4 separate regions of the Homo sapiens genome follow, and all the other regions are linked to region 1. Evidence: fine-mapped expression QTL. A gene starts in region 1. Each other region holds a variant in brackets. All regions are shown on one strand. Distances are from middle to middle. Region 1 holds the start of ABL2 (ABL proto-oncogene 2, non-receptor tyrosine kinase). Region 2 overlaps FAM20B (FAM20B glycosaminoglycan xylosylkinase). Region 3 overlaps ABL2 (ABL proto-oncogene 2, non-receptor tyrosine kinase). Region 4 has its middle 23 kb from the start of ABL2.

Region 1 (5,955 bases):
GGATACATCTCAGAAATAGGCTAATTGGATAAAGTATGTATGCCTGCCATAGGAAAGGTGGAGGTTGGAGGAACAGGAGATGGAAGAACATTAGGCAATTATAATCCAGTTATCCTGGAAAATAACTTCGAAACACTAGGTGAAACGTTTATTTTGTTTATTTATTTATTTATTTATTTATTTTTGAGACAGAGACTCCCTCTGTCACCTAGGCTGGGGTGCAGTGGCGCAATCTCCTGTCACTGCAACTTCCGCCTCCTGGGCTCAAGCAATTCGCCTGCCTCAGGTTCCCCAGTAGCTGGGATTACAGGCACGCGCCCCCACGATTGGCTAGTTTTTGCATTTTTAGTAGAGACGGGGTTTCACCATATTGGCCTGACTGGTCTTAAACTCCTGACCTCAAGTGATCCGCCCACCTTGGCCTCCCAAAGTGCTGGGATTACAAACATGAGCCACTGTGCCCGGCCCATTAGGTGAAAATTTTAGACTTAAGACTTTGTACGTAATGAATGAGAGGGAGAGTGTGGTCAAAGCAATGAGAGAAGCAGTTTCTTTGAGTGAGTTGCTTGGTGCTAAAGGTGAGGAATCTCTAGGAAGAAAGGGCTAGTAGCGGGAGAAACCAGCGCAGAGATGCCTAAGCTAACACTGTGTCTTACATAACGCTGTTTATATAGATGAAGGGAAGAGGTAGATATGAGAGATACTGTAAAACTGTAAAAAGTATGGCAATAGCCTAGAAATGCAGACTGGTGAAGTCAGGGATTGGTGAGGCATTACTCACAAGCTCCTTCCTTCTGGAGAGAGTGGTGTTGCTCCTGTGATAAGGATGATGAGGATGAAGAGTATCTGTGTCTTCAGCACGCCTTACTGCTGTTGGTGATGTGTCTGATCTTTTATGCTGGCCTCTGGCCATTGCTCAAATTTATATATATATATATATATAAAATTTGAAAAAGTTAGGCTTGTAAAACCTAAAACCATTATGTTTTTTGTATTAATAGTATATGCATATATGACACCAGTTATATGCCAAATACTGTTTTAAGTACTATACATATATATTGACTAATTTAATTTTCACAATATTCCTATAAGGTAGATACTATTTGTTATCATCATCAGTTTACAGATAATGTACTGAGACACAAAAAGGTTATGTACTTTGCCCAGATCAAATAGTCCATAAGTATCAGGGCCAAGTTATGAACCCAAGCAGTCTGGCTTCAGAGCCCCTGCCCTTAGCCACTGCACTCTACTGCAGGCTGAGCAGCCCTTATCAGAAATGTTCGGACCACAAGTGTTTCAGATTTGGGAATATTTACACACACATAATGAGATATCTTGGGCATGCGACCCAAGTCTAAACACAAAATTCATTTATGTTTCATATACACCTTTATACACATAGCTTGAATGCAATTTAATACAATATTTTAAAAATTTTGTGCATGAAACAAAGTTTATGTTAAGTACTTACGTGAAATGTTCCACCTCTGGCATCATATTGGTGCTCAAAAAATTTCGAATTTTGCAGCATTTTGGATTTTCAGATTTGAGATGTTCAACCCATATATTCATCTATCTTTATATAGTATGCATGAATTAGCAGAGAAACCAAACCATTATCCCCAAATTAAAATTTTCTCCCATAATAAAAATCAAACAGTAAACCAAATTCCGGCTCTGTGACATCTTTATCCCTTTCGAATGAATTTTTTTCAGTAGTTGCAAACACTGGGAATTAGAAGAAAAGACAGGTATTTTAAACACAGGGAAACTTTAATCCAAATGGAAAGTTCATATTTTATCCAGTGTTTACACATAGTGTTTCCGTTCCCATTTTGGAGTTAATTTCAGTTATTTCTGGCTACACCCTAGATGGCAATGGAATAATTTCATAGTGCTTTTACAACAGGCAATATCTACGTCAGTGGATGGTTCATCTAAGGTCAACCTGGTTCAGGAAAGATATGCAAAGGAGAGCTTCATCCACCTCTTCTCCCAACCCTACATTTCCAGTGGTTGTTTTGTTCCTTCTTTGCAGTGGCTCCCGTCCTGTCTAATTTAAGCAAAATTTCAGTGTAGTACCTCCATTAACTGATACTTTTTATAAAGCAAATTGGGAAGCCAAAAGAATAACAGGAGAATGATCAAGATTTGAGAATTAAAAAAAATTGAATTAAGATGCAAGTAAACACAGTGGGAGAGGGGGATGGCGAGTCAATTGTATATAGTATATGTGTATGTATAAAACGCTTCTTTTCTGCCTCATTCACTCTCTTTAGACTGCATAAGCTAAAATGAGTAAGTTCTGACTCAGAAACAGGGTCAAAGATATATATTTTTTCTCCTTTGTCATCAAAAGAAGACCTGACCACGTGCACAGTGTATAAAGGATGCCAGTGGGAAGATTAACTTTACTGTCAGGCATTGTAAGGAAACAGAAACTCACATATGGTGAGATGGTAAAGGAGTTCAAGAGGAATTCATGGTAATATAATATGAGGAATGGGGCTACAATTGCGTCCCCAATGAGACTATAGAAGGCACACAATCCAGGCCAGTGCGATTTAACATCATGAAATAATCTCCAAAAATTAAAATCAAATAAGGTAGCATTTTACTCTCTTCTTGTAAATTTTATACCATTTTAATTTTTACTGGAGGCCTGCTGCTGACAAGGGTGTTTAAAAGAGATCCCCCTGGGTATTTTAGAGCTCCTTAACTGGATGGCAAGGACCAAATAAATGCCTTGTGCTTTTCTGCCCCACCTGTGCCTGCACCTGAGCTGCGCACGCGGTGGCACTGAGCCCTCGACTCACTCATTTGACAGGTGGAGGTGGGATGGGGAAGGCCGGAGACCGACCAACCCCAAAGGCGGTAGCGTGTGGAGCCGAACGCGGGAGGGGGTCGGCTGAGGCGGATTGAGGGGGGGGACGCCGAGGTGCGGCGACAGGACGCGGAGGACGAAAGACCTCAAGCAGCGGTGGCCGGCAAATGAGGTGGGCACTGGGGGACCCACCCTGCGAGGAGGCGGGGGCGGGGACGGGGGGCGCGGCGCGGCAGGGCGGGGCGGCAGCCGGGAAGCCCTCCTTCCCCGCGGCGGAGGTGACTGGCGGGCGGGGGGCGGGGGGCGGGGGGCGGGAGACGCTCTGTCCCACGCTTTCCCAGCGCTCGGTGGTTTAAAGATGGCGGCGGCGGTGGCGGCGGCGGCGGCGGCGGCGTTGGGGGCGCGGAGCCGCGACAGGAGGAGGGAAAAGCAGAATCTGTGAGTCGCCTGGAGGCAGCGCGGCGGCTGCCGTGAGGAGGCCGGGTGCGGAGCCGCCGGTGGCCCAGCCACTCAGGGCCAGGGCCTGGGCTGGGAGGGAGAGACCGGAGCAGCGCCAGGAGCCCGAGGCCGGAGCCGAGGAGGAATGTGACCAGGGGTCGGCGGGGGCGCGGGAGTACGCGAGAGCAGGGATGGGGCAGCAGGTGGGCCGCGTCGGGGAAGCTCCGGGGCTCCAGCAGCCTCAGCCCCGCGGGATCCGGGGCAGCAGTGCAGCCAGGCCCTCCGGCCGCAGGCGGGACCCGGCGGGGCGCACCACAGAGACCGGCTTCAATATCTTCACCCAGCATGGTGAGTGTGTCTGGGAGCCGGCATGAGAGCGTGGGGGAGGCCGGGGGTGGGGTCGGGGCGGGGTGGGTGGCGGACGGGCTGCCCGAGGGGTCGGAGGGTGGAAGGTGCCTGAGAGTGGGGGCGGAATCCGCTGCCATCTGGTCCAGTCCTGGGAGGCGAGTCACACCCCTCCCCCCTCGCGTCTCTAGCCTGGCTGGCAGATCCCGGGGGCGGAGAAGGAAAGAGAAGTGGGTTTGGGGACCCTGGATGGTCTGTCCTCTACTCTGGGACGGGACTATGCGGCTGCAGAAAGAAAGTGAATGGCAGCTTCAGGAGAGGGAAGGATGAAGGGCAGTATTAGCTCAGTCCCAGAGGTGGGAGCATAAACCCGTCGTTAGTGAAGGGGAAATGGGTTGTATCCTAAGGGATTGGGAAATGGGAACTGAATTTCAGGAGATTGTGGAGTACAAGGTATGTGTTTACGTTAGGTGATGAGCAGTGTCAGGATAGTGAACTGTGGACAGTGTCAAATGCTTTTCTGTAGGGAAGATGAAGTTAGCATCATCTTATCACTTTTGACATGCTTTTGTGGTTTATTTTGTTTTGTATTTCGTTTTTACTAGAAATGAAAGGCTTTGCCAAAGCCTCTGTACTATGCTTCAGAGTAGGACACACAATTCTGAGATTGCTGGCAAGGGCTAGAGGTTGGTGGGCATGGTTAGGACGTCAGTCAGGATATGAACAAGTTTTCCTTTGTAGTGTGTGCGTGTGCCCATATACATACATACATGTATGTATGCTCCCTGTAGTCTGAAACCTATTATTTTGATCTCATTGTCAATGTATTTTTAGAATAGTTGTCTCCAAACTTTTTTTGTCTTGTTTTTTTGTTTTGTTTTTGTTTTTGTTTTTTTTGAGACAGAGTCTCGCTTTGGTCCCCATGATGGAGTGCAATGGCGGGATGTCGGCTCACTGCAATCTCTGCCTCCCGGGTTCAAGTGATTCTCCTGCCTCAGCCTCCCGAGTAGCTGGAACTGCAGGTGTGCACCACCACGCCCGGCTAATTTTTGTATTTTTGGTGGTGGTGGGATTTTGTCATATACTCCTGACATCAGGTAATCTGCCTGCCTTGGCCTCTCAAAGTGCTGGGATTACGGGTGTGAGCCACCACCGTTCCTGGCCCAAACTCTTTTTTTTTTTTTTTTTTTTTTGGAGACGGAGTCTCATTCTGTCGCCCAGGCTGGAGTGCAGTGGCGTGATCTTGGCTCACTGCAACCTCTGCCTCCCAGGTTCAAGCGATTCTCCTGCCTCAGCCTCGGAGTAGCTGGGATTACAGGCGCCCGCCACCACACCCGGCTAATTTTTTGTGTTTTTAGTAGGGTGGGGTTTCTCTATGTTGGCCAGGCTGGTCTCGAACGCCTGACCTCATGATCCACCCGCCACAGCCTCCCAAAGTGCTGGGATTACAGGCGTGAGGCACTGCGCCTGGCCACATGTCTCCTATTGAAGATGTGCTTGAGTGTCTCTTTCGGGTATATGAACACTTTATGAAGGTGATATATGAGCTAATCTTTATTAAAATCACTTCCTAAAACACAGGATGGAAGAATGGATTAGTAGTTTACAGGGAAGAAATCATCCAAGTAAGCTTCACTTTGTGGGAAGTGTTACTATGCATTAAACTTGGCCTAGTAGGCAATGGTGATCCTCTTGCTTTACTATCTTATTCGGTATGTAAGATTTTCCAAGAAAGAGGAAGTCATGAAGAATGGAATAGGAAGACATTTTGAGGATTTGGATCTATGGAGAGGGAGAACAATTTGGGTAGAAGAAACAACTTGAACGGGAACATGGGAATAGATATAATTTGTTGATGGGCTAGTGAGGAGACAGCTGTCAGGAATGAAGCATCATTATGAGTTGGAAGAAAAAGATCATAGAGCAAAAATTGGAAGAGTCAAGTTCTGGTTCTGGCTCCACCTGCCTGGGTGATTTTAGTCACCATCTTTGGGTTTCTTTATCTGTAAAGTGAGGAGGTTGGACTGGATGATCTCTAAGATACTTTCTGGTTTTAAGATTTTATGATTCTAATTAAGAAGCAGTAGAAAGAAAATTTTGATAGGCTGGATGGGACTGGGTTATGGAAAATCTGGCAGAGAAGTTTATATCCATTTACCTGATTGGCTAGTCTTTACCTGAAAGACTGGCCTTGAGTGGTGGCAGTGGAAATGGGAGGAGTAATTTCAAGGGTCCTTTCATTCATTCAACAAACAAGGGTTTTTTTTGAGCACCTGTTATGTACTGGATTGTGGGAATGTTGCTGTGAACATAACAGAGTCCCTGCCCTTTGGAACTTAAAG
Region 2 (5,955 bases), 180 kb after region 1:
CTAAATGACCTCACTCCCTATGTCACAGACAACACAAAGTATACAGGAAAATTTCAATTTCCTGCCATCTCCTTTAGATTCATTTTCCCAAATAACCTGAGAGCTGGTTGTCTGATTTGCTTTTGTATTCCACTGAGTTCTTCAATTCCTAAAAGTCATGAGCCAGCTTGCTCAACAATGCCCCATTTTAACTTATTAATCATTCCCCTATATAAATGTCCTCTACAATCTTCTTACCTACAGTTAGGAAGGTGCTCAACAGCTGCTCTGTGGCGACAGGTTTGATCTCTGTCCGAAGATTAACAAATCTGCCAACTACCAAGGGGGCTCGGTGGAAACCCAGAATCCTGGTTTGGAAGATTGAAGAACAGAAGAGAAAAATCTTAGGGGATGTTTTTTAAGTAACAGTCTTAAAAATTACAGTTCATCATGTCAAATGTGTAAAGGGTTTTTAGCTAGTAGCTAAACCTAATTTTTTAGAGGTACATATATTTAGGAATTTAATGTGAAGGTGTGTATAATTTATTTTAATATACATTTCAGCAAAAAGAATAAGACAAATCTGATAAAATGTGAACACTTTTTAAATCTACAGAGTGGGTATATGGGCTCATTATACTATTCTTTCTACTTTTGTATGATAGAAATTTTTTCATAATAAAAATTAAAAATAGATTTTAGGAAAGTATTAGAAAAAAAATGGGACCCAAACTCATATATGGGTTCAAATCTTTAAATAAAACAGCATGTTGGTTAAAAAAAAAAAAGCAGACTGATCTAAAAGGCTAAGCCCACAGAGCAAATTAAATATAGAGACATTTGAAGATATCTCTAATAATCTAAAAGGTTGAAAACAATGATTTATTTTAAAAAAATGAAATTTCCTGGCTAAAAAATATACACCAACTGAACAAAAGTTGGAGGGGCAGAATTTGGAACACACAGAAAATTTACAATGAAGAAAATAAAAATCACCTATGATTCCACAACCCAGAAATAATTACAGGTGCTGACATTCTGGCATATAAGCATGCTTTCCCTTTAAGTGTGGGTATATAAACACACACTCACACTTACGTATATACATACAATCGAGATTATATTGTATGCAGTTTTATATCTTGCTTTGTACTCATCATTGTATCATGAACCTTTTCCCCAGTCATTAGAAAGCCTTTACAAATGGCTATTGTTTAGGGCTGCTGATTCTGTCCTAAACACAGTCTTAGAAAAGCCACAAAGGCAAGATCAACAGATTTGTCAAAATAACATAGAAATCCAGAGATACCCCCAGAGGCAAGGGAAGGTGGTTAAATCTGACTGTAATGAAGAAACAGCAACCCAAAGCAGAAAAGTATCAAGATCCACAAATGGAAAAGGTTGGGAAGGGTTTTTTGTGTGTGTTTTGTTTGTTTGTTTGTTTGTTTGTTTGGGTGGTTGGTTTTTGAGTCTCACTCTGTTGATCAGGCCAGAGTGCAGCGGCATGATCATAGCTCCCTGCAGCCTGGAACTCCTGGGCTCAAGTGATCCTCTCACCTCAGCCTCCCTGGTACCTAGGACTACAAACGCAGCCTAGATTGGGAAGTATTTTTTCTTCCCATTGAAAATTGCCAAGCCCAAGAACAGCAGCCAGTTTAGCATTGAGGGGCAATGTTACTGTGGCACTTGAGGCTGGCTACGGTGGCACTTAACAAAAGTGACAGGGCGACTGGCAAGAGAACATCTTTCAGACTTTGAGGTAGGGAAGGACTTTTAAATACAAGACTCCCAAAGCCCAAGTCACAAACTGAAACATTATAGTTAGTTAACATCAAAAGTACACAAATACTCTAAGATAACAAATAGGTGTCCTGCTGTGAAAAGATAAACTTTGCCAGTAATGGGGAAATACAAAATAACAATGAAATAACAATGAAATATCACTTTACATATATATCAACAAAACTTAGTGTGTTGGGCAATACAAAACACTGGTACAGAAATGAGGAACTTTATGCCTGTTGGTTTCCAACAAACAGGATAGGAAGAAGGGAGTTGGGGACGAAGAAAAGAGGCAAACAGATAAGGTCTTGGAAAGCCTGATTCTAGTGTGCCATTAAGTGAGGAGAAGGATTTATCCAACTGTCCACCACTAGGTCTTAAAAGGGGCAGCAAAAATTCATGGTATTGTACACACATATCTAAGCTTTTCCATATCAATAGATGTTTAGGTTACAACCAGTTTTCCCACTATTGAAAATGCTACAGCTAAGACTGTTGTATAT[A/G]TATCTTTGAATTTTGTATTCTTTCTCTAGGGTAGTTCCTAGAAATGTCTTAGATATGTGTATAAAAAAGCAGTTATTTGTTCAAAGGATATGAACATTCCTTAATGTTGATATATTTATCCTTAATTTTGATATATAATGCTAGGGTTCTTAACAAAAAGACTGAAACAATTAACAATGCCATAAGCAGCATATGAATCTCAATGTATTCCTCCCAATAAAGTATTATCTTTTTTTTAAGCTTTGCCATTTTCAACAGGTAAAAACAGTATCTCATCTGAATTTTTAAAAATTTCTGGTGAGGATGAACCTCCCCCCACCCCACATATTTATTAGCAATTGACAATGTTTATACTCTTAACCCATTTTCTAATAGAGTTTTAACATACATATGTTTGTATAAACACATATTAAGACCATTAATATTTGTATAAACACATATTAAGGCTATTAATACTCAGATTACATTAGATTCAAGTGTTTTCTCCGTTTGTTGTTTGCTTTTAAATTTTGTCTCTTGCTATATAAGTTCATTATTTTATTTAGTCAAGACTATTGAATTTGTGATTTTTAAGTTATTGCTTTTATGTTTACAAAATCCTAATTCAGAAAAAGACAAACATTTCACCTTTTTTTTTCTGGTTTCCTTATAAATTCATTTTTAGGCTGGGCGTGGTGACTCACGTCTGTAATCCCAGCACTTTGGGAGGCTGAGGTGGGCGGATCACCTCGAGTCAGGAGTTCCAGACCAGCCTGGCCAACATGGTGAAACCCCGTGTTTACTAAAAATACAAAAAATTAGCTGGGTGTGGTGGTGCGTACCTGTAGTCCCAGCTACTCGGTAGGCTGAGGCAGGATAACTGTTTGAACCCAGGACGTCGAGGTTGCAGTAAGCCAAGATCAGGCTACTGCACTCCAGTCTGGAGGACAGAGTGAGACTCTGTCTCAGAAAAAAAATTTATTTATTATTTTATTTTATTTTATTGAGACAGGGTCCCACTCTGTTGCTCAGGCTGGAGTGCAGTGGTGTGATCACAGCTCACTGCAGCCTCGACCTCCCAGGCTCAAGCAATCCTCCCTCCTCAGCCTCCCCACTAGTTGGAACTATAGGCACACGCCACCACACTCAGCTAATTTTTGTATTTTTTTAGTAGAGACGGGGCTTCTCCATGTTGTCCAGGCTGGTCTTGAACTCCTGGGCTCAAGTGATCTGCCCACCTCAGCCTCCTAAAGTGTTGGGATTACAGGTATGAGCCACTGCATCCAGTCATAAATTAATTTTTTAAAACAAATATTGTTAGCAGTTTCTTTTAAAGTCAGCCAATATGGCCTTATGAAAGAGCTGGTCAGCAGAGTAACTGGGATACCAGACAGTTCAGCTGCAAGGTTCCTGACTAGTAACCTGCTGAAAAAGAAAAAAAAAGAATTTTCCTAGTTAACTTACAAACTTATAATTCACATCTATTTTCTTTCCTTTTTTTTTTTTTTTAAAGACAGAGTCTCGCTCTGTCGCCCAGGCTGGAGTGCAGTGGCACGATCTCGGCTCACTGCAAGCTGTGCCTCCTGGGTTCAAGCGATTCTCCTGCCTCAGCCTCCCAAGAAGCTGGGACTACAGGTGCCTGTCACCACGCCCAGCTAATTTTTTGTATTTTAGTAGAGACGGGGTTTCACCATGTTGCCCAGGCTGGTCTCGAACTCCTGAGCTCATGCAATCTGCCCACCTTGGCCTCCCAAAGTGTTGGGATTACAGGCATGAGCCACTACGCCTGGCCCTTTCCTTTTGTAATTATTCTGGTTTTTGAAGCTGTGCATAGTTTGTATAAAGAATAATAAAACTCATATTTCATGCTATATGTTTCCAGCACATGGAAATAAGTCAGCATTACTTACTTAAAACAAATACATAACAAAACAACAGGATGGCTAGACCCAATTAACGACCAGTTCAATTCAGAGATTTAAGTTCAAAGTTTATTTACCAAGAATATCTTCACTGATGATAATAACAGAGCAGGCCAGAAATGAAATGACCTAAAGAAGCATGGAAGTAAAATACTTCAGTATTCCTGGTGCCAACCAAATTATGAGACTCATACAAGTTTAATGGAACTAGTCAATTAGCTATCTAAAATCGATAACAAGTTATTTATTAGTGTTGCATCCTTCTGAAGGAGTCCACGAGTCCTCTCCAAGAAAGATTTTTGAAAGCAAACAAAATGAACATAAGCTGCTGTGATCATACGCACCTGTCCAAGTGAAAGGCTGCTACCTCTGCATTGTGTCTATCATAACCAGCATACGGTTCCCCTTCCACCACATGGTCTCGGCTATACCTGCAAAGTGAATGGGAAGCACAGATGTATACGTGGATTACACCAGTAACAGGTGACAGCACAAGTGGTAGAATACACCCATTAGCAAGCCTGATTCTGCTATAGTCACCTTCTCTGTCAACCCTGCAAACAACTGTGGATTAGCATGAATTGCCGGTAGATGGAATGAAGATGAGGTAGAGAAGGAAACTAGAATTCTCTATCTACGTCACCAATCATTCTAAGAATAAAACATGGAAGCTGTCATTTTTGCCCCACTAAAGGGCTTTTGATGTAGTTTTAGTACAGATAAAAGGTAGTTTTCTGGAAGGCAAGGACTGTCTTTGTATTGCCAGCACAGTGTTAAGCACATAGTTGGTGCTTAATAAATGTCTACTAAAATGTTTATTAGACTGACCTGAAGAAATGAAGAAAAATGTGTAATTAAAACTTTTGCTGGCCAGGCACGGTGGCTCACACCTGTAATCCCAGCACTTTGGCAGGCCAAGATGGGTGGATCACCTGAGGTCGGTAGTTCGAGAACAGCCTGGCCAACATGGCGAAACCCCATCTCTACTAAAAAACACCAAAATTACCTGGGTGTGGTGGTGAATGCCTGTAATCCCAGCTGCTCAGGAGGCTGAGTCAGGAGAATCGCTTGAACCTGGGAGGCGGAGGTTGCAGTGAGCCGAGACTGTGCCACTGCACTCCAGCCTGGGCAACAGAGTGAGGCTCTGTCTCAAAAAACAAAAAACTTTTGCTTACCAGAATGGCTGTGGCAAAGCTTATAAGAGAAATTTAAATTTGGGGGAAAATAGTCTGATATAACTCAATCTTTGTTAATGGGAAGGCAACAGCGCTTTTGAAAAAAGTTGTTTGAATAACCATTCTTGTTCTTTTTTTTTAAGTTTATGATGACGTACTACAAGGAGTCCTGGACTGGCAGTGGGAGGTTGGTGTGGCTGTCATTACTTGACTGGGTAAGCTTGAGCAAAACCTTTCTCTTCTCTGGGTCTCAGATTCCTTACTTACAATATTAGGGGCTGGACTAGGAGGTAATTTCTAAGGTCTCTTTCATCTCAGACTGCATTCTGATGATTTTCTATCACATGTATGACATAAGCAAAGGATAATGAAGACTGGCATATTTCTTTCTACTAACCATTTTAAAAGATAGAATTTAAATCTGTTAATTAGGAAGAAAAAAGTACTTAATTCACCTATGTCCTCTCTATTGGTCTCCTGCATTTCCTGAATCTAAAGGAGACCTTTTAGGCTTTACAATGGACCTATGAAATAGAAATAAATTGAGAGTGATGTGGAGAAGAGAGGTTCCACTAAGGATAGTTGGCTCTCTCATGCTAAAACAGCAATAGGGA
Region 3 (5,955 bases), 68 kb after region 1:
AAATTTAAAATTCAAGTGAAGCTGCAAAATTCTCATCTGTAGTTATTCAATAATAACTATGTGTCCTATGATATGACATTCATGGCATGACTTTTTATTATTTACATATAACTGGCATGAAAATGTGCTTCAACACATTTTCTGCTTTTTTTCTCTTAATTTAAAAAATCGTCACACAGTAAAATGGATTTTGTTGGTTTATTGTACGGTTCTGTGAATTTTAACACATGTAAATTCGCATAACCCCACAAACAGCGGAACAGTTTCATCACCCCAAAAGACTGTCTCATGCAATCCCTCTGTAGTCACATATTCCCCCCCTTTAATCCCTGGCAGCCACTGATGTGTTCTCCACCACTAGAGTTTTGTCTTTCAGCAGTGTCATAGAGCTAGAATCATATAGTATGAGATCTTTTGAGATTGGCTTCTGTGGGAGACTCAGCAAAATGCCTTTGAGATTCATCCAACTTGTGTCTATCAATACTTCATTCCTTTGTATTGTTGAGTGGTATTCCATAGTATGGATGTGTACCACACCTTGTTTATCCCTTCATTCACTGAAGGACATTTAAGTTGCTTTCAGTTTGGGACAATTTTCTTTTCTTTTTTTGTTTTTTTGAGACGGAGTCTCACTCTGTCATCCAGACTGGAGTGCGGTGGCGCGATCACAGCTCACTGCAACCTCCGCCTCCTGGGTTCAAGCGATTCTCCTGCCTCAGCCTCTCAAGTCACTGGGATTACAGGTACCTGCCACAATGCCCAGCTAATTTTTGTATTTTTAGTAGAGACAGGGTTTCACCATGTTAGCCAGGCTGTTCTCGAACTCCTGACCGCAAGTGATCCACCCGCCTCATCCTCCCAAAGTGCTGGGGTTACAGGTGTTAGCCACTGCGCCTGGCCCAGTTTGGGACAATTTTCAATAGAGCTGCCATAAACATTTGTGTTCAGGTTTTTGTGTGAACTTAAGTTTCCATTTTTCCAGTGTAAATACTCAAGAATGGGATTGCCAGGTCCTATGGTAAGTGTTTGACTTTATAACAAACTGCCCAACTGCTTTCCAGAGTGGCTACACCATTTTGTGTTCCCCTCAGCAACATGTAAGAGTTCCAGTTGGTCTGCTTGCTTGTCAGCACTTGATGTCAGTATTTTCTGTCTTAGCCATTCCAATAGGCATATAGTGGTGTCTCATTGTGGTTTTAATTTGTATTTTCTTAATGGCTGTTGAACATCTTTTCATGTGCTTATTTGCTATTTGTATAACCTTTTTGGTGAAATGTCTGTTCAAGTTCTCTTTTGGTTTTTAAATGGGTTGTTAGAGCCTCAACTCATTTTTGCTTGGGCTTTGTACCAACAGTAATGTTTCTTGTTCCCATTGCTTTTCTTATTTTCTTTCCTTTCCACCACACCCCATAGGACTCTCTTTGATATTTTTTTCTTATTAAAAAGACAATGTTGCAGGACTTCAGAGACATACTGTTGGCTAGGTTTTAAATGTGGGTTCTGCTATAATTCACCTTGTGATCTCAGACAAGTTAATTACTTGATAGGATTATTGTGAGAATTAGATAATTTTAAATGATGTATATGAAGTGCTTGATACATAGCTGTATTTAAACCTTTCTTTTTCCTCTCAGTTCTTATCTCAAGAGTCCATTCCCTATAATACTAGTCTTCTGAGATGCTTAGTGAAAAGAATATCTGTGAGAAAAGAAATCTGAGATACATTACATGCTCTAGCTATTTTTTGGGGTTTTTTAAATTTATTTTTTAATTTTTTTTAAAAACAGAGTCTCGCTCTGTTGCCCAGGCTGGAATGCAGTGGCTTGATCTCGGCTCACTGCAACCTTTGCCTCCTGGGTTCAAGCAATTCTCCTGCCTCAGTCTCCCAGGTAGCTGCGGTTACAGACGTGTACCACCATGCCCGGCTAATTTTTGTATTTTTAGTAGAGAAGGGGTTTCGCCATATTGGCCCAGCTGGTCTTGAGTTCCTGACTTCAGGTGATCTGCCTGCCTTGGCCTCCCGAAGTGCTAGGATTACAGGTGTGAGCCACCTCTAGCTATCTTTTGGATGGTTTCTAGGAACGTGAATATATTAATGGCTTTTATAAGTTAGCCATTTCTTTATTGTTGGACTTGTTATATTCAGCATTTTCCAATCTTATTTGACTATGGAACACTTGACTTGTGACATCTATTTAGCCTACTTTTATGAAACACACTTTGGGAAATATTGACTCATTCAGCATGTGTGTTAGTCCATTTTGCGTTGCTATAACAGAATACTTGAGACTGGGTAATTATAATGAACAGAAATTCATTTCTCAGAGTTCTGGAGGCTGGGAGGTCCAAGATCAACGGGCCGGCATCTGTCTTGCTGCATCATGGCAGAAGACATCACCTGGTGGAAGGGCAAAGAGAGTGAGAAAGAGAGCACGAGGGGTTGAACTCTCAGCCTCAAGCTATTTTATATTGACATTAATCCATTTATGAGGGTAGAGCCGTCATGTCCTAAACACCTCCCATTAGGCCCCATCTCCCAGCACTGTTGCATTGAGGATCAAGTTTCTAACATACAAACTTTGGGGGACACATTCAAACCACAGCAGCATGTTACCTCAGTATGGCACCTGATAAGTACTCGTTATTTCTTTATTGAGAGAGGGTCTCGCTGTGTCATCCAGGCTGGAGTACATTAGCACAGTCTCAGCTGACTGCAGCCTTGATCTCTCAGCCTGAAGCAATCCTCCTGTCTCAGCCTCTAGAGTAGTTTGGACTACAGGCACGCGCCACCACGCCTAGCTGATTTTATTCATTTTTTGTAGAGATGAGGTCTCACTATGTTGCCCAGGCTGATCATAAACTCCAGAGATTTTACCACCTTGGTCTCCCAAAGTGCCAGAATTACAGGTGTGAGCCGCCACACCTGGCCAAGTACTCATTATTTATCAAACATATTCATGCATGGTATCATTTAGTTTTTAAATCTGTTTTTCCTTTTTTTTTTTTTTCTTTTGAGGTAGGGTATCCCTGTGTTGTCCAGGCTAGTCTTGAACTCCTGAGTTCAAGTGATCCTCCTACCTGAGCCTCCCAAGAAGCTGGAATTACAGATGGGCACTATTGTGCCAGGCTTAAATCTTGAA[A/G]ATTAGCATTATAAAAATACTGTAATTCATACCTTGAGAGGGGTATGTAGCTTATCAAGTCTTTTGCTTTTTTTAAAGAAAAAATGTTCTCTGTTAATGACCCTTTATCCCTATTTGTATAGGAAGTTCTAGGCAGTTTGGTCCCTAGACTACTAGCATTGGTATCACCTCTGAATGATATTAGAAATGCAGGCTGGGCATGGTGGCTCACACCTATAATCCCAGCACTTTGGGAGGCCGAGGTGGGAGGATTGCTTGAGGCCAGGTGTTTGAGACCAGCCTTTGCAACAGAGACCCTGTCTCTACAAAAAATGAAAAAACTAGCCAGGTGTGGTGGCTTGTGCTTGTAGTGGTATCTCATTGTGGTTTTAATTTGTATTTTCTTAATGGCTGTTGAACATCTTTTCATGTCCCCCACTGCCTCGCCACACAGAATTATTTGGCTCCAAATGTCAATAGTGTCATGGTTGAAAAACCCTGGCTTAAATGATTACATTTGGAAAATTATGAATTGTCATATATGGTACATAATGTTTGTCTTATTATTAAGAATATAACTAAGATATTTTTAAAAGACTCATATCTCAGTATTTCAAAGCATGAATTTTTATCATAAAATATATAAGGAAGATGAAGGAAATTGGAGCAAATCTGTGTAATCTTGGACAAGTTATTTACCTGATAGGATTATTACGAGAATTAGATAATGTAGATATGTACTAATTGTATACATACTAATCTAATAATTATATATTTATATTTGTTCCAAAAGTTTGGAATTTCAGCTTAAGTGGTATTTTGATATATAGGAATGATGTAGAAGTATATACTTTTACAAAATGTTTTATTTTTTATTTTAAAATTTATTTTATTTTTAGAGATGGGGTCTCACTATGTTGCCCAGGCTGGTCTTGAACTCCTGGCCTCAGGTGATCCTCCTGCCTCAGCCTCGTGAATAATTGGGATTGCAGATGTAAGCCACCACCCCCGGCTGAAGTAGATACTTAATATTTATGAGTATTAATAGTTATATGAATATTATAGAAGTTATATAAGTATGGTATACAAGTTATATAAAATACAAGTTATGTATGTTTTTGTTTTGGTTCTTGAGGTGGAGTCTCACTCTGTCACCCAGGCTGGCGTGCAGTGGCGCCATCTTGGCTCACTGCAACTTCCACCTTCCGGGTTCAAGCAATTCTCCTGCCTCAGCCTTCCCTGTAGCTGGGACTACAGGTGCATGCCGTCATACCCAGCTAATTTTTGCATTTTTAATAGAGACAGGGTTTCACCACGTTGGCCAGGCCAGTCTTGAACTCCTGACCTCAGTTGATACGCCCACCTTGGCCTCCCAAAGTGCTGGGATTACAGGCATGAGGCACCACACCCAGCCTTTATGTTTTATATAGGTTATATATACAAGTTATATATATAAGCATTATACAAGTATTTTTATAAGACATTATTTTGTATTAATATAAGCAGTTTCAGAAAAGCCTGTACTTCATTACATCATTTAAACCCGTATTTGAGAGATTAATAAAATTCTGTATTAGTCTATATTGGTCAAGTATAAATCAGTGTAGCAGCCCATGGCTATTAATCAAAATTTTAGGAAGTCTTCAAGGTAATGACAGTTGCAAAAACAACCAAAAACGACACATTTTGAAGTGACAGGCTACCATATTTTCTAGCTCTTTCTTAAACAGATGTATCTCTTAAATTCATGGTCAGAAAATCAACAAATCAGCTGAACCAGAAATCCCATCATAAACAGCTGTTGCCGATAGTTTATGGAATGATGTCAGTATATTTGAGCCAATATGTTGAGTAGGACTACTTATTCCTTCACCAGCAAGCTGTGATAATCTTCATGTGTTCTGTGACTATTTTACTATGTGTTACCTTGCTTGTGGAGCAGTGGTGTAGACCCTCTTTATGAATTGGAAAACTGATTGACCTTAGACTACAGGTTCTAAGGATTACAGATTAAAGAGGTTATCTGTACTTACAGCATGTATTTTATTCACATTAAGTTGAATTTAGGTTACATCCAAGTTATACTGTTCACTTTTAGATGAGGAAACTGAAGAAATGCTGTTAACTTGATCACAGATGTAGTAAGTGGTAGAATTAGTATTCAGACCCAGGGAATCTGGCTCTGGCATCTATGCTCTTGACCACCATGCTCTACTGCTGATTTATACTCATAATATAACAGCTGCCATGCAGCTATTATTATAATTAAATTAATTTCATATTGCCTCACACTTCACATGTGTTAGGTACTCAATAAATGGGAGATGATATTATATTCTCATTAAGTACAACTAGAAAGTTCTACAAGGCATGACTCTTTTCTGTTAATATGCTGTATTATATATTGATTTCCATATGTTGAACTAACCTTGCACTCTAGGGACAAATCATAGTTGGTATAGTAAAATAATCTTATTATCCTGCTAGATTTGGTTTGCTAGTATTAAATAATTTATTGAGGACTTTTGCATCTATATTCATAAGGAATGTTCTTTTTGTGTGTGTGCGCTACCCATGTCTGGCTTTATGTTTTCTTAAATTCATTCTTCACCATCCACTCCCTCATCATGGAAAAGGACTTACGTTAGTCACTGGTTTCTAGCCTTAGGTCAGAGGCCAGTTTCACTACGTAAGTGCAGAAAGACAATCAGGTGGTTGTGGGGGTCCCTTAAACTTTCTGGTTGTGATAGTCCAAGAAAATTGATCTCTGAACCAGGAGGCAGAATTCCAAATCCTATTCCAGAATTGTATCTCTACATCTTACCACATGGTCTGT
Region 4 (5,955 bases), 23 kb before region 1:
CATTTCCAGAAAAAATGTGAGTATTTCTCCCCTTGCTTTTAAAGTCCAACCCCATTATTAGAGAAGCCCTAAATTTTAGTCCCCTCACCTTTCACTTATTGAGACATTGATTAGTGAGCCAGGCTCCCACTTCTGGATTCCATGGCCATTGAATAAAGCCTGCACTGGTTGACACTCACTTTTAGTTTTGTATATTGACTTCATGACACCAAATAGTAAAGTACCACATCTTTATAGGGACCAGCTTTGTTGTTCATAAAACTGGCAACCCAGATGGGACACTGGACTAGATTAGGGAAGGCCTATTTGGGAAGGCCCTTTGCCTCACCGCAGACCTGGCAACAGGCACCTGACAGCTGGAACCAGCTTTGTCAGTAACATTGTGAAGATTAAATGTAGACATAAACTCTTAGGACAGTACATGGCACAGGATAGGAATAGTCTGATTTTTTAATTAATTTATTTATTTTTTGAGATGGAGTCTCACTCTGTCACCAAGGCTGGAGTGCAATAGTGTGATCTCGGCTGGGGCAGGCTCAAGTAGGCTGCCTCAGCCTCCCGAGTAGCTGAGATTACAGATGTGCACTGCCACGCCTGGCTAATTTTTGTATTTTTAGTAGAGATGGGGTTTCACCATGTTGGCCAGGCTGGTCTCAAACTCCTGACCTCAGGCAATCCGCCCACCTCGGCCTCCCAAAGTGCTGGGATTATAGGTGTGAGCCACCATGCCCAGCTGAATAGTCTGAATTTTAGCCATTATTAGAGATCTGGGGAACTCTTTTTTCCTTTATGTGTAGAGGAGTTGGCCTACTGAGGAACTCTACCACCAATCAGTCTGTGCTATGACTGAGTTTCTGGAGTCAGTCTACCTCTAAATGTGTTCATGGACATAGAGTAGCAAGCATGGCTTCATGTATCCCTATACAAAGTGTTTTCATTTCATTTCCTATTGCTGCTGCAATGAATTCTGGAGGCTCTAGGGGAGAGCCTGTTTTCTTGCCTTTTCCATCTTCTGTAGGCGGCCTGCATTCCTTGGCTTGTAACCCTGCTTTATTCCAGGCCTCTGTTTCCATCGTCATACCTCCTCTTCTTATTCTCAATATCCTGTCCCTCCCCTTATAAGATTCATGTGATTGCCGGGCACGGTGAATCATGCCTGTAATCCTAGCACTTTGGGAGGCCAAGGCGGGCAGACTGAGCTCAGGAGTTCGAGACCAGCCTGGGCAACATGGTGAAACCCCATCTCTACTAAAATACAAAAAAAATTAGCCAGGAGTGGTGGCGTGCGCCTGTAGTCCCAGCTACTCGGGAGGGTGAGACAGGAGAAGTGCTTGAACCTGGGAGGCAGAGGTTGCAGTGAGCTGAGATTGCACCACCGCCCTCCAGTCTGGGTGACAGAATGAGACACTGTTTCAAAAAAAAAAAAAGATTCATGTGATTACTTTGGGCCCATTGGCTAATGCAGGATTATCGCCCCATCTCAAGATCCTTAATTTAGTCACATCTACAAAATCCATTTGACCATGTAAGATAACATATTCTCAGGTTCTAGAGATTAGAAGGTGGGCATCTTTGATGAGGAAGTGTCAGTTTATGCTTACCACACTGGACAAGGAGTTTATCTCGGTTGTGGTGGACACATTTCTCTGAATCATACAGAGGTCATGTTAGCCACTTTCTCACGGATGGCTCTTTTCCCGAAGAATAACAGTGGGAAAGAAAAATGCCAGCCTTTGAAAAGACAGAGAGACAGAGGAGTATACCATTTTTCTTATGTGAGTGAAGAAATGGTGATAGGAATGGTTACTTTCTGAAAATATGCAAGGACTATCTAAAACCCTGGAATGTTAAGGGCTTGATGACATAGAAGTCATAGTAGCAACTCCAGCCTCAGCTGGAAGTAGGCTGAAGTAGGCTGCATGGCCTCTTTACACTTTCGCATATGCTTCCAGATCCCACATGTCAGTGACAAATGATCGTGTTATATAGCAAAACACGTAAGAACACAAGCTCTGGAGTCAGCCAAGACCCACATCCTTGCTCCGCTAGCTCTGCTATTTACTAATTGGGTGACCTTGGATGACCTGCTTAACTTCTCTAGACTAAGTTTTCTTGACTGTAAAATGGGGATAATGAGAGGTCACAGGTTTGTTATTAGGATTACATGAGATAATGTATGCAAAGTGCTTAGCATAGTGTCTGACACAGTAATTACTATTCAGTAAATTATTATTATTATTATAACTGGAATAAATATGAGGAAAGATAAAGTAGAACTGCACCATCTAACACAACAACATATTCTATAATCCCCTATAAATCTCCCCCCAAAGTCCCACTCATCATAGAAACTACTCTCCTAAATTGCTCTTCTTTGTCTCTTTGGAAACTCCTATCCTTTCTGGGTCTCTTCTTCTCACTTTTGGAATAATTTCTGTCAGACATCTTCTGTATGGCTTCTCATTTAGGCTCATTCCATTCTGTTTCTCTGCCCATTTAACTAATGAGTATAACAAAGGCACAATATTGAGTCATATAGATATCCCTTTAAAAGAGCTGAAAGTGGCAGAAACAAGTCTGTGAATACTTACCCTGGTCTCTTTTTGTCCTATCAACTTCTGTTTTTTTGTTTTGTTTTGTTTTGTTTTTGAGACACAGTTTCACTCTGTCGCCCAGGCTAGAGTGCAGTGGCACGATCTATCTCGGCTCACTGCAACCTCTGCTTCCTGGGCTCCAGTGATTTTCCTGCCTCAGCCTCCGAGTAGCTGGGATTACAGGCTCCCGCCACTGTGCCCGGCTAATTTTTGTATTTTTAGTACAGATGGGGTTTCACCATGTTGGCCAGGCTGGTCTCGAACTCCTGACCTCAGGTGATCTGCCCGCCTTGGCCTCCCAAAGTGTTGGGATTACAGGTGTGAGCCACCATGGCTGGCCATTTCTTTCTGTGTTGTTGTTGTTGCTGTTTTGTTTTGTTTTGTTTTTTCCGAGATGGAGGCTCACTTTGTCACCCAGGCTGGAGTGCAGTTTGTGCAATCTCGGCTTACTGCAACCTCTGCCTCCTGGGTTCAAGTGATTCTAGTGCCTCAGCCTCCCAAGTAGCTGGGGTTACAGGCATGCGCCACCACGCCCAGTTAATTTTTATATTTTTAGTAGAGACATGGTTTCACCACATTGGCCAGGCTGATCTCGAGCTCCAGTTCTCAAGTGATCTGCCCACCTCGGCCTCCCAAAATGCTGGGATTACAGGACAGTCAACCTCATTTTTTATCCTCATGCTCTTCCAGCTTACAACCTTGTTCAGGTGTGCCAAATGTTTGGAGAACCATATAAATTGAGCTTATTTATATTCAGTTTGGAATTCTGAAGCATTTATTAAACTCTTTCATCTATGTTGACTGGGGAACAATGCATCTGCTCAATAGTGACTGCTCTGGAAAAGTCCTTGTTAAGCTACTAGCTGCAGGTTTCTTCTATCCAAGGAGGACATCTAGAGGCTAACTGTGATGTGTAGCCTTTCCAGGAATGCTTTCCAAATTGTTTTCTTCACAGATCCAATCATAAATCATAAATCACATACCCAGTAAGTCTAACTAGAATAAATATTAAAGTATAGCTTATCTTAAGGGAAGAAACAGACCTAATGAC[G/A]TTACATTTATTTTCCAGGCACAGTAGAAGTACATTAAGGGTACAGAAGAACTTTTAAATGTGATGAGTTGGGAGAAGAGCCATAAAGACAATTTGGGGGCTGGGCGCACTGGCTTATGCCTGTAATCCCAATACTTTGGGAGGCGGAGGCAGGTGGATCACTTGAGATCAGGAGTTCGAGACCAGCCCAGCCAACATGGTGAAACCCCCCTCTCTACTAAAAATACAATAATTAGCTGGGCATGGTGGTAGGCGCCTGTAATCCTGGCTATGTGGGAGGCTGAAGCAGATGAATGGCTTGAATCCAGGAGGTGGACGTTGCAGTGAGCTGAGATGGAGCCACTGCACTTCAGCCTGGTCAACAAGAGCAAAACTCCATCTCAAAAAAAAAAAAAAAAGGATTTGGGACAGGTGAAGAAATTTGAGCATGTTGGTTGATGTGACTGAGTTAATATTGATTTTCTTAAGTGTGTTAGGACCCTGTGCTTCTGCAGGACAGTATTCCTGTTCTTGGGAGATTCAAGCTGGGATATTTAAGAATAATGTAGGAAGACATCTGCAACCTACTTTCAAATGTTTTAACAAAAAGGAGATGTGTGTATACATATGTAGAGAGACAAAGCAGGTGTGGCAAGAGGTCATCAGTTGGTAAATCTAAGTGGGGAGAAATGTGAGTATTCATTACACTTTTCTACAACTTTACGTTTTTTCCAAATGAAAAAAGTTAGAACAGGCTGGGAATGATGGCTCATGCCTATAATCCCAGCACTTTGGGAGGCCGAGGCCCGTGGGTCACCTGAGGTCAGGAATTCAAGACCAGCCTGGCCAACATGGTGAAACCCTGTCTCTACTAAAAATACAAAAATTAGCCGAGCATGGTGGTGGGCACCTGTAATCCCAGCTATGTGGGAGGCTGAGGCAGGAGAATGGCTTGAACCCCAGAGGCGGAGGTTGCAGTGAGCCGATATCATGCCACTGCACTCCAGCTTGGGCGAGTGAGTGAGACTCCATCTAAAAAAAAAAATCAGAACATAAAAGCAATGAGCAAAGTCACTTAAAATATTACCTGAATTTGTATCTCCACCGTTGTGACATCTCTTATGCTGTGTTTTGTTCCTGTGTTGAAATTGGACTTTTTTTTTTTTTTTTTTTTGTGATGGAGTCTCACTGTGTCACCTAGGCTGGAGTGCGGTGGCACGATCTCAGCTCACTGCAACCTCCACCTCCCAGGTTCAAGCGATTCTCTTGCCTCAGCCTCCTGAGTAGCTGGGATTACAGATGCATGCCACCACACCCAATTGATTGATTGACTGATTAATTTTATTTATTTATTTATTTTTGAGATGGAGTTTTGCTCTTGTTGCCCAGGCTGGAGTGCAATGGCATGATCTCGGCTGACTGAAACCTCTGCCTCCTGGGTTCAAGTGATTCTCCTGCCTCAGCCTCCCGAGTAGCTGGGATTACAGGTGTGCACCACTATGCCCGGTTAATTTTGTATTTTTAGTAGGGACAGGGTTTCTCCATGTTGGTCAGGCTGGTCTGGAACTCCCAACCTCAGGTAATTCGCCCGCCTCAGCCTCCCAATATTTTTTTATTTTTAAAGATGGAGTCTAGGCCGGGCGCGGTGGCTCGCGCCTGTAATCCCAGCACTTTGGGAGGCTGAGGTGGGCGGATCACCTGAGGCCGGGAGTTCACGACCAGCCTGATCAACATGGAGAAACCCCATCTCTACTAAAAATACAAAATTAGCCAGGGGTGGTGGCACATGCCTGTAATCCCAGCTACTCGGGAGGCTGAGGCAGGAGAATTGCTTGAACCCAGGAGGCGGAAGTTGCGGTGAGCTGAGATCACGCCATTGCACTCCAGCCTGGGCAACAAGAGTGAAACTTTGTCTCAAAAAAAAAAAAAAAAAAAAAAGATGGAGTCTTGCTCTGTGGCCCAAGCTAGAGTGCAGTGGCGTGATCTCAGTTCACTGCAACCTCTGCCTACCTGGTTCAAGCAATCCTCCTGCCTCAGCCTCCCGAGTAGCTGGGATTATAGGCACCTGCCACCATGCCTGAATAATTTTTGTATTTTTAGTACAGGCAGGGTTTCACCACGTTGACCAGGCTGGTCTCAAACTCCTGATCTTGTGATCCGCCTGCCTCGGCCTCCCGAATTGCTGGGATTACAGGCATGAGCCACCGCGCCCAGCTGAAATTGGAGTTCTTATGTCTTCCAATCTCACTGTATTGTAATCACTCACATAGTTATTCTGTGCTCCTTGTATCACTCAGCATACAGCAAACACTCACAAATATTTGCTAATGC

What was found. PIP is the estimated chance that this variant, and not a neighbour inherited with it, causes the effect.
Region 2: its variant is the best candidate, but not a certain one, in a credible set for the expression of ABL2 in skeletal muscle (GTEx, PIP 0.60).
Region 3: its variant is the best candidate, but not a certain one, in a credible set for the expression of ABL2 in whole blood (INTERVAL, PIP 0.80).
Region 4: its variant is the best candidate, but not a certain one, in a credible set for the expression of ABL2 in caudate (GTEx, PIP 0.64).

The regions. Positions count from the first base shown.
Region 1 is chr1:179,226,902-179,232,856 of GRCh38, reverse strand. ABL2 (ABL proto-oncogene 2, non-receptor tyrosine kinase) reads left to right here and starts at 3,180. Exons shown (of 12, transcript NM_007314.4): 1 at 3,180-3,616. The coding sequence starts at 3,460. RefSeq lists a silencer at 3,265-3,674 and an enhancer at 3,130-3,886.
Region 2 is chr1:179,048,921-179,054,875 of GRCh38, reverse strand. It overlaps FAM20B (FAM20B glycosaminoglycan xylosylkinase), which reads right to left. Exons shown (of 8, transcript NM_014864.4): 3 at 4,511-4,597; 4 at 238-347. Among named protein-coding and RNA genes, the nearest start is that of FAM20B, 26 kb to the right of the region's middle. The variant A/G (reference allele first, on the strand shown) is at 2,265.
Region 3 is chr1:179,158,410-179,164,364 of GRCh38, reverse strand. All of the region lies in intron 1 of ABL2 (ABL proto-oncogene 2, non-receptor tyrosine kinase), which reads left to right. Among named protein-coding and RNA genes, the nearest start is that of ABL2, 68 kb to the left of the region's middle. The variant A/G (reference allele first, on the strand shown) is at 3,141.
Region 4 is chr1:179,249,434-179,255,388 of GRCh38, reverse strand. No RefSeq gene overlaps it. Among named protein-coding and RNA genes, the nearest start is that of ABL2, 23 kb to the right of the region's middle. RefSeq lists a silencer at 4,721-4,893. The variant G/A (reference allele first, on the strand shown) is at 3,646.